Regions from separate parts of the Homo sapiens genome. Here region 1 is linked to region 2. Evidence: fine-mapped expression QTL. Tissue or cell type: nucleus accumbens. Region 2 holds a variant in brackets; the other region holds the start of a gene. All regions are shown on one strand. Distances are between the middles of the regions.

Region 1 (5,391 bases), 810 kb before region 2:
AATGTGGTCTTTTCACATTAGATGTATGCTAATCTTTTTCAAGCAGTCAAACTTCAAAATACACTGTTTTATTTACTATAAGTACTGGATTTCTATAGCAAACTAATGAAGGCACAGCTAGTGCAAGCAGATTTAAACCCTTAGTCTTATGGGCTGGAAAAAAGAAAAAAATAAAACACTTGCATTGGTACTTCATGAACTTTTTTTTTCAAGCAAATATTTGTTTCAGTTAACAATTCTGACAGTTTCACAGCTACAGTCTAACAGAAACATGACCAAAGGACATCACAAAAATCAACACTGTGTAGCACCAAACTAACATGCTTTAGATAATTGACAACAGCTTACATATTTTGAAGAATATTATACTACAACAGCCTAGATAGAATAAACTGGCACTTAGACACTTTTTAGGACTATTTTTAAAATATAGACTACCAAGAAACCACAAAAACTTGACTATAAGGAATAATAGTGTTCAGGTTACAGGTCAGGGTTTTACTTTTTTCAAGGCTGTATGAATCTGCTTCACTTCTTGAGATTTTAAGATTCTTGAAAAATCTTTCAGATTGACTTATTTTCTGTATTTCTTGTTTCCATAATGTTTGCCAAATTGATAGTAGGTACCATTGACTTCTCCAGTATAGTAATAGATTGATTTCAGGATGACATTATCATGTAAAATCTGCCCAATTTCAAAGTCCTCATCCAGGATAGCATCTTCTCGTGGTTCCAGCTTCCCAATCATAGGAATCTCAGGAGGACTAAAGAAGTTGAAGAATGATGCATTAGGAACCACTCTTGGCTGGATTTCAATTTCTCCAGTAGCAGTTGTGCGACTCTGGGTAGTTGTCACAGTAACATCTTTTCCTCTTCTCCAGTCTATCTTGCAGCCTTTGCAATCTTCAATTTCCCATCCCCAAGAAAAGAAGGGATCATTGTGATCTGGTTTTGCCTTTATTATATATGTCTTCACCAGCACCTCATTTCTGAAGTATGGGTTGGGTAGAAAATGAAATTCAAAGGTGTAACTTACAGGCTGGCCAGGTTTTGAGAACTTCAGGCTAACATCCGACAAGAACTTCAGAATGGGCTCATCATACTTCTGAATCATAGGCCCGAGCTTGTCAACATTCTTTAAAACAATCAGCCAATAGTCAGGAATGCCTTTAGGGTCTTCTCTTTTAGGCTTTCCCTTCCTAGCTCTTTTAAGATCTACACTGTCCTGAAGCCTTTCCTCAGGAACTCTTTTATGAGTCTCTCTTACTGCAGCCCTTGCCTTAGCCTCTGTTGCTTTAGGCTGTTCTTTATCATCTGCCTTTACCTGGGGGACTTCTTTAGGATCTTCTTTTACTTCAGGGGTTGCCTCCATACAGTCTTTAGAATCTGCTTTTTCTTCAGCCTTTACCTCAGGAATTTCTTTAGGAACTTCCTTTTCTTCATCCTTCACCTCAGGAATTTCTTTAGGAACTTCCTTCTCTTCAGCTTTCACCTCTGGGTTTTCTTTAGGGTTTTCTTCTTCCTCACCCTCTAAGGGAGGCATTTCACTAGGGGTGTTATCCTGCACCTCCTCATCACTGCTGAACTCCTCATCCTCTGAATTCCATTCACATTCTTCTTCTGTAGGCTCGTATTCTGCATTGATGATTTGAAACCGCCTATCATACAGAGGCTTGTTGAGTTCAGCATATTTTCTTTCAAGATCATGAATTGCTTTTAAGAACAGGGTATCTACCTTGTCACATTCATCTTGAATGTTTCTAAGCGCTTGCACACGATTTCTAACTGCCTGAGGCAGCCTATCCACGAAATTTGTTCCCAACGGGGCCCGCCGCGCCCTTCTGGAAGGCTCAGGTACCCTCTTCTTTCTATACAAGCGGCTGCGGCTGCTAGTGCTGCCGCTGCTGCTGCTGCTGCTGCCGCTGCCGCTGCTGCTGCCACTAGTGCTGCTGCTGCTGCTGCTGTCACTAGTGCTGCTGCTAGAGCTACTGCTGTCAGATTCTTCCCCAGAATCACTAGTCGAGCTAGCCATCTCCTCTTCGGCAACCCCATGGGCGACAGGTTCCGAGACCATTTTAAAATCTGCTTCTGCCATCTTGCAAGCCTACAAACTCTACCAGGGAGACCGCGCGACCAGAGATGGGCAGAAAATGACTCACGGATGCTTGAGTGGCGGCGGCGGAGGCCCGGGCTGCGGAGGTGGCAGCGGCGATGGCAGCAGCGGCGCAGAGCGGAGCTGGAGCTGGGGATGCAGAGGCCGGCGCTGAGGTGGCAGCGGCAGTGGAGGCTTGGGCGACAGCGGTGGCGGCAAGGCCTCTCCCGGCTGCAGCTAGAGTGCCGAGATGTACCGCAGCCGAATGGCGCAGTATGAGACCCCGAGATCTCTTCTCGTTTTAGATCGCGAGCCCCCTCCCCTTGCAGTCAGACCTCCCGTTAATTTCGTTCCCAGTGTGCCTTTAGTTCGCTCCTCATTTGCTGGTCCACCTTAATTGACAAACTGTACGCCCAACGAACGGCCAAACGCCACTACTCCTGGCTCCGCCCACCTTCCCAGACGCCGCTCGCTGGCTGAGGTGCGACCCCTTGGAAGGTGTCCCCCTGCCCCCCAAAAAGTCTATATTTATAGTTTTATAATTAAAAAAGAAAAAAAAGCGTAGACATGAGGTAAAAATACCAGCCATAGTTCCTAACAAGGGCAAAAGAGGCGTGTCTTCCTTCTCCCATCCGCCCACCCTGAATTCCCGTTTAGTTTGTCACGGGTCTCTTGACAAAAAGCTGTAAAAAAAAAAAAAAAAAAAAAAAAAAATTGAATGAAAATGGTCCAAATGGCGTCATTGGGTAGTGTGACTATGGACGATTTAAAAACAAAACGATTTTCTCTAAATATTCTATGAGCATGCATTTTTACACTGGATAAAAAAGGGGAGAGTCGGTTATTGGCAGAGGAGGGAGGGACTAGACAGCAGGCGTATTGCATTCCACGAAGCTGATTTAATAAGTGCTGTCTGTGATGTTTGGCAAGCCTGGTTTATATCCATCTACAAGGTTTGCGAACCCATGTTGCCGTGAGTCAGTTACACCATTTTTATTATATTTCTCTTTTTAGGCTGGCATATTATATACCCCAACCTTGCTGCTAACTTGCCACGTAGCCCTTCTCAATGCTTGTAACAACCTTGTAGATAAAACAAAGAGGTATTAAATGTTAGGTAGTATTGTTAAAAAGCAAATGATTTGCGTTATACTTTTGTGCAGCAGGTTTCAATTCCAAGAACAGTGGGATGGGAGGGGGAATTTGTGCTAATGAATGTGCATCTTCTGTCAGTGTATGCGATGTCATCTGCCACCAATTTCCTTCTAATGTTGTAAAATTCTAGCCATACTATAGTATGATTTACAAGTCCAGTAATATGTGAATAAACTTTTGCAAAATGAAGTTTAAAAACGAGTATTTGTTATTTTTATTTACAGGATTTTTTTTTCTGCTACAGAACAACTCCCTTGGTACAATAAAAAAGACGAGTATTTACTTTTCATTGAAAGGTAAGGATCATATTTAGCACATTTTAAAGAATGACAAAAATTACTCATCTCCATCTGAATAAAAGTTTACAGGATACAGTCATTTAAAGATTTATTTTAGAGAATTATCTTGATAATTCTATGGAAACAGGAAAATCCACAGAGGTAATTTGGCATACTAATGTAGACAATTACATACTTAACCGCATTAACTATCTAAACCTGGTCATAGAATACAAGTGGTAAATTAAAATATGAAATATGATAAATTATTCATTTCAAATGAGGAAATGTATTAAAGTTAGATTAATCTTTATAGAATTTGTGCTTTGTCATGTAATCACGTTTTTTAAAAGTTAGGAAACGCTTTTCTGTTTCATAAATGCATTTACTTTTATTGTTTATCTCTAATTGTCAAAGTCTGTGAACATTGCAAAGATAAAACAATATAGAAAATTCCAACAGTAGTAAAAACACAAAATCTTAACCACCAAATGATAAGAATTACTAGCATTTTGATGCACTTCCTTCCAGAAATTTCCTTGTGCATATACATACCTGCCTATTTATGTATACTGCTTTATCTATGTGACACCATATTATGTTTTGTAATCTTTTCATTTAATTTATCAATTACTAATGGCTATATTTTCATGGCAAATGATCGACATCTTATTTTTAAGTAAGTGCATATTCCATGGAAATAATTGCCTTAATTTATTTGACCAGATTCCTGTTATAGGGTGGCCATTTCTATACCATCTCTCCCCTTAAATACATACTATTTTCCTGCTATAATCAAAGTGTCCCTGGATACCTAAAGCATGTATTTCTATGCACTTGTGAAAATTGGTCATAAGATAAATTCCTAGAAATGGATGGCTTGGGGATGATCATTTCATATTATGAAATTATTATTGTATACATATTGCCAAACTCTCTGCAGAATTATTATCACAATTTACAGTTCCAACAGTGCATAAAGTTCATTTTTTTGTTATTCAACTAATATATTTTTGTGCTTGTCATATGCCGGGCAAATGTGGTAGAGGATTGTAGTATAATGGTGAATGAAATTTACTAAGTGCATATCCTTTCGTTGAATAATTTTAATCAAAACATATGTTATAGAAACAATGATTTACGTCATTGATGTTATACCATAAATATTGTTCTGAAACTTACTATTTTTATTTTAAATTATGGAGATTTAAAAAAATGTATGCTCTTATGTTTTAAACTTTGTAGCATTAGGAATTAGTATTTTAGAGTCAGTCATGAGTTAGGGATCCAGATTTTTAAAATATTTATTTTTATTAGCTAGCTAATTCTTCTAGTACCATTTATTTGGTAATCTTTCTATCTCCTGCTTACTTGAAATGCTATTTTGATCACATTAAATAAATTGCTTGGGTCTGTCTCTAAATTCTTTTCTGATCCATTGGTCAGACGTTTGCTGCAAACAACTAATGAGTCGGTTTTAAGATAACTTTACATTTTGTGAAGATGATATGTGTTCATTGATAAAGTCAGGCAATACATTGAAATACAAAGAAGAAATTAAAAGTAACTCAAAATACCACTGAGAAGTAATCACTACTTACATTTGTAATCAACATCTCCAAATTAATTTATCAATATTATGTATTCATATTTCTTAGATTAGTGGTAAGATTGTCTTTTCATATGTTTATGTTTTTTTGAGAATTGTCTATTCATATTTTTTTGCCACTGAATTAAGCAAGAAATTAATCAATGGTGAAATCCTAAAGGTAAAATGATTTTGGCCTTGACTTAAGACAACTATGATTTCTTCAGGAAATAACGCATGATATTGGGCAAATGTGACTAAATTACTTTCAGTTACTT
Region 2 (5,391 bases):
TTTCAATCAGTGAACTCAATTCTGCACTTTGCATGGAAGGAGAAATGACCAGATATGTGATTATATACTGATTCATGGGCTATAGCCAATGGTTTAGCTGGATGTTCAAAGACTTGGAACAAGCATGATTGGAAAATTGGTGACAAAGAAATGTGGAGAGGAGGTATATGGATGGACCTCTCTGAGTGGTCAAAAACTGTGAAGATATTTGTATCTTATGTGAATTTCCATCAATGGGTGACCTCAGCAAAGGAGAAGATTAATAATCAAGTGGATAGGATGAATCGTTCTGTGGACACCACTCAGCCTCTTCTCACAGCCAGCTCTGTCATTGCCCAATGGGTCCATGAACAAAGTGGCCATTGTGGCAGGGATGGAGATTATGCATGGGGTCAGCAATCTGTACTTCCACTCACCAAGGCTGATCTGGCTATGACCAATTTGCCAGGAGCAGAGACCAGCACTGAGCCCTCGATATGGCACCATTCCTCAAGGTAATCAGCCAACTAACTGGTGGCAGACTAATTATATTGGCCCTTTTCCATCATGGAAAGGGCAGAGGTTTGTCCTCACTGGAATAGACACCAACTCTGGATATGGGTTTGTCTATCCTGCACACAATGCTTCTGCCAAGACTACCATCCTTTGACTCACAGAAAGCCTTATCCACTGTCATGGTATTCCACACAGCATTGCCTTTGACCAAGGCACTCACTTTACGGCTGAAGAAGTGTGGCTGTGGACTCATGTTCATAGAATTCACTGATCTTACCATGTTCCCCATCATCCTGAAGCAGCTGGACTGATAGAATGGTGGAATGGCCTTTTCAAGTCACAATTACAGTGCCATCTAGGTGACAATACTTTTCAGGGCTGGGGCAAAGTTCTCCAGAAGGCCAGGAATGCTCTAAATCAGCATCCAATATATGGTACTTTTTCTCCCATAGCCAGGATTCACAGGTCCCAAAATCAAGGGGTGGAAGTGGAAGTGACACCACTCACCATCACCCCTAGTGATCCACTAGCAAAATGTTTCCTTCTTGTTCCTATGAGGTTACATTCTGCTGGCCTAGAGGTCTTAATACCAGAAGAGACACATGTTTCAATTAAACTGGAAGTTAAGATTGCCTCCTAGACACTTTGGGCTCCTCCTACCTTTAAGTCAACAAGCTAAGAAAGGAGTTACAGTGTTTGCTGGGGTCATTGACCCGGACTATCAAGATGAAATCAGTCTACTACTCCACAGTGGGGGTAAGGAAGAGTATGCACAGAATACAGGCAATCCCTTGGGGCATCTCTTAGTATTACCATGCCCTGTGATTAAAGTCAATGGGAAACTATAACAGCTCAATCGAGGCAGGACTAACAATGGCTCAGACCGTTCAGAAATGAAGGTTTGGGTCACTCCACCAGGAAAAACAACCATAATATGCTTGAAGTCTGTATATAAATACTTGCATAGATTCATAATTAAATTAACTAAATTTCCTCATTTGAAAATGTTGTAATTCTAAGATAAGCTATGTTTTGCATATATATTTTAACATAGTTCACCTATCTCATTTTTTTAAATGAGAATACATAAAATTACATAAAGAAAAGAAACCACATGAAAAAGCAAATGCTTTCTAGGCCAAGGAATAAGTCTAACTTTATCCAATAGTGAAAATGAAAAGTTAATTAGGTGATTTAAAGCACTGGAAATTTGACAGTAGCTATTTGAATAAAACACCCACATCACAATCAAAGGTGAAATCAAATAGGAACATGAAGCTATGTTCTAGAAAAACATTTTCTCCAAATTATTTTAAGAAATTGCATGCTTCTTCAAAATATGATTTTTGTTTTATAATTCCCTTGCATAATTTGATAATTGGGAAATGTAAAACATTACATTAACATTAATATAGATAAAAGTGAATTTTTATCACCACATTGGTTTTAACTTGTCTTTGTTTCTTTGTAATTTGTGTCAAAAGAAAATAAATCTTGGGACCCAAAAATGACTAAGCTAAAGGGAAAAGTCAAGCTGGGAACTTCTTCAGGCAAACCTGCCTCCCATTCTAATCAAAGTCATCCCTCCGAGGCTCACCTGAGACAAATACATGTTTGATTACTCCCTATCCCCTATTGTTTATGTATAAATGCAGATTCAGTGAGCCAGACTAAATTGTGTATTCAGTGGAAGGCTGATCAAAGACTCAAAAGAATCCAACCTTTTTTCTCTTATCTACTTCTAACTTCAAAGCCCCACTTCATGTTGTCCCACCTTACTGAACCAAACCAGTGTACATCTTACACATATTGATTGATGTTTCATGTCTCCCTAAAATGTATAAAAGCAAACTATACCCCTGACCACCTTGGGCATATGTCTCAGGGCTTCCTGAGGCTGTATCACAGGTGTATTTTTGACCTTGGCAAAATAAACTTTCTAAATTGACTGAGACCTGTGTCAGATATTTTGCATTCACAATCAGTAACCACAGAGGGATTCTGAGGGGAGGTGCCCCTGACTTTGACGAATCTCCTATAGGTGCTTGGTACCAGCTTGAGCTTTTTTATGGCTCAAACCAATAGGGCAATTTGCTGAGGCCTGTAAGCTCCCCCTCCAGAAAATCCCTGATCTCCCCAAATTTGGTTAAGATCTAAAGCTTATTTTGCTGTACAACTCCTCCTTTTGGAGTTTCACTTGCTTCTTACAGGGAAGGCAAGTTTTCCTGCTTCCATGATGTTGGAAGGAAGGTAAGTCCTTTCTGGAGTTTGAGCAAACTTCCAAAAGGGAAGGCAAGTCTGAGTTTTTTCCTGCTTCTAGGATGGTAGATAGCAGTCTTCAGCCTAAGACCCATTCCTAGGTAAGTAGCTGAATTGTTTTTTTTTTATTTTTATTTTTTGTTTGTTTTTTTGTGGGCT[AAAGTT/A]AAGATTAAAAATCAGCTGGTGTTAATTTATCTTTACCATTAGAGTGCTCAGTATTCATATAAATTGTAATATTCATTTGTTTTGCTTAATTGTTTTTTTTTGTTGTTGTTGTTGCCTTTGTAATTGTTTCTGTTTTTGTTATTGTTTCAGTCTTTTTCCTACTGGGTTTGATCAACTCTATCTGACATGATGAAATCTGAAGGAAAGTTCCAATTTATGGGAACAAGGCCTCTGAAGTGTCTAAATTCCCACAAAATAAAAAGGGGAGAGATTTTTTTCTTTTGACTAAAAAAGGGACTTTATTTGTCTAACAGGGCCACATTTTGCTAGCCAAGCCGAATGGTAAGAGCAATGGCTGTTGCCCCACACTGCAGATCCATTGTTAAGGTTCTGTCTTTTTTTTTCTTTTTTTTTTTTTTTCCACTATGATAGCCTTGGTTTGGCTCCTAAATCAAATCCTTTCCAATTTGATACTGGTTACTTTTAAAATATGAGCAATTTGTACTAGCTGGCATGAGATGGAATTTCATTGTGGTTTTGATTTGCATTTCTCTAATGATCAGTGATGTTGAGCTTTTATTTTTCATATGTTTCTTGGCCACATAAATGTCTTATTTTGAGATGTGTCTGTTTATATCCTTTGCCCACTTTTTCATGGGGTTGCATGTTTCTTTCTTGTAAATTTGTTTAAGTTCCTTGTAGATTTTGGATATTAGACCTTTGTCAGACGGGTAGATTGGAAAAATTTTCTCCCATTCTGTAGGTTGCCTGTACTCTGATGATAGTTTCTTTTGCTGTGCAGAAGTTCTTTAGTTTAATTAGATCCCATTTGTCAATTTTGGCTTTTGCTTCAATTGCTTTTGGTATTTTTGTCATGAAGTCTTTTCCCATACCTATGTGCTGAATGGTATTGTCTGGGTTTTCCTCTAGGGTTTTTATGGGTTTGGGTTTTACATTTAAGTCTTCAATAGATCTTGAGTTAATTTTTATATAAGGTATAAAGAAGGGTTCCAGTTTCAGTTTTCTGCATATGGCTAGCCTGTTTTACCACTACCATTTATTAAATAGGAGATCCTTTTCCCATTGCTTGTTTTTGTCAGATTTGTTGAAGATTAAATGGTTTAGGTGTGTGGTGTTGTTTCTGAGGTCCCTGTTCTGTTCCATTGGTCTATATGTCTGTTCTGGTACCAGTACCATGCTGTTTTGGTTACTGAAGCCTTGTGGTATAGTTTGAAGTCAGGTAGCATGATGCATCCAGCTTTGTTCTTCTTGTTTAAGATTATCTATCTTGGCTATATGGGCTCTTCTTTGGTTCCACATGAAATTTAAAGTAGTTATGTCTAGTTCTGTGAACAATGTCAATGGTATTTTTATGGGAATAGCATTGAATCTATAAATTACTTTAGGCAGTTGGCCATTTTCATTGTATTGATTCTTCCTATTCATGAGGATGGAATGTTTTTCCATTTGTGTCTTGTTTTATTTCCTTGAGCAGTGGTTTGTAGTTCTCCTAGAATAGGTCCTTCACATCCCTTGTTAACTGTATTCCTAGGTATTTTATTCTTGCAGCAATTGTGAATGGGAGTTCATTTATGATTTGGCTCTCTGCTTGTCTATTGTTGGTAGAAAGGAATACTTGTGATTTTTGCACATTGATTTTGTATCTTGAGACTTTGCTGAAGTTGCTTATCAGCTTAAAGAGTTTTTGGGCTGAGATGATGGAGTTTACTAAATGTAGAAGCATGTCGTCTGCAAACAGAGACAATTTGACTTCCTCTCTTCCTATTTGAATACGCTTTATTTCTTTCTCTTGCCTGATTGCCCTGGCCAGGACCTCCAATACTATGTTGAATAAGAGTGGTGAGAAAGGGCACCCTTATCTTGTACAGGTTTTCAAGGGGAATGCTTCCAGCTTTTGCCTATTCAATAGGATATTGACCATGGGTTTGTCATAAATAGCTCTTATTATTTTGAGATATGTTCTATCAATACCCAGTTTATTGAGAATTTTTAACATGAAGGAATGCTGAATTTTATCAAAGGCCTTTTCTGCATCTGTTGAGATAATCATGTGCTTTTTGTCTTTGGTTCTGTGTATGTGATGAATTATGTTTATTTAATTTCATATGTTGAAACAGCCTTTCATCCCAGGGATGAAGCCGACTTGATCGTGGTGGATAAGCTTTTTGATGTGATGCTGAATTTGGTTTGCCAGTATTTTATTGAGGATTTTTGCATCAATGTCCATCAGAGATACTGGCCTGAAGTTTTCTTATTTTGTTGTGTCTCTGGCAGATTTCTTATTTTGTTATGTCTCTGCCAGGTTTTGGTACCAGGAGGATGCTGGCTTCATAAAATGAGTTAGGGAGGAGTCCCTTCTTTTTCAATTGTTTGGAATAGTTTCAGAAGGAACAAAGAGGAGGTACCAGCTCCTCTTTTCACCTCTGGTAGAATTTGGCTGTGAATCCATCT

Alleles and levels. Alleles are on the strand shown, and positions count from the first base shown. SD is a standard deviation of normalised expression in the study named.
For the expression in nucleus accumbens of the gene that starts at base 2,997 in region 1, A is the low allele of the variant in region 2 and AAAGTT is the other (moderate effect, 0.64 SD a copy in GTEx).

What was found. PIP is the estimated chance that this variant, and not a neighbour inherited with it, causes the effect.
Region 1: it holds the start of FAM133A, and the variant in region 2 is fine-mapped to the expression of FAM133A in nucleus accumbens (GTEx, PIP above 0.99).

What each region holds. Positions count from the first base shown.
Region 1 is chrX:93,671,210-93,676,600 of GRCh38, forward strand. FAM133A (family with sequence similarity 133 member A) reads left to right here and starts at 2,997. Exons shown (of 4, transcript NM_001171109.2): 1 at 2,997-3,065; 2 at 3,472-3,543. NAP1L3 (nucleosome assembly protein 1 like 3) reads right to left here and starts at 2,369. Exons shown (of 1, transcript NM_004538.6): 1 at 1-2,369. The coding sequence starts at 2,095. The coding sequence ends at 575.
Region 2 is chrX:94,477,800-94,483,190 of GRCh38, forward strand. No RefSeq gene overlaps it. Among named protein-coding and RNA genes, the nearest start is that of MIR548M, 580 kb to the right of the region's middle. The variant AAAGTT/A (reference allele first, on the strand shown) is at 2,914.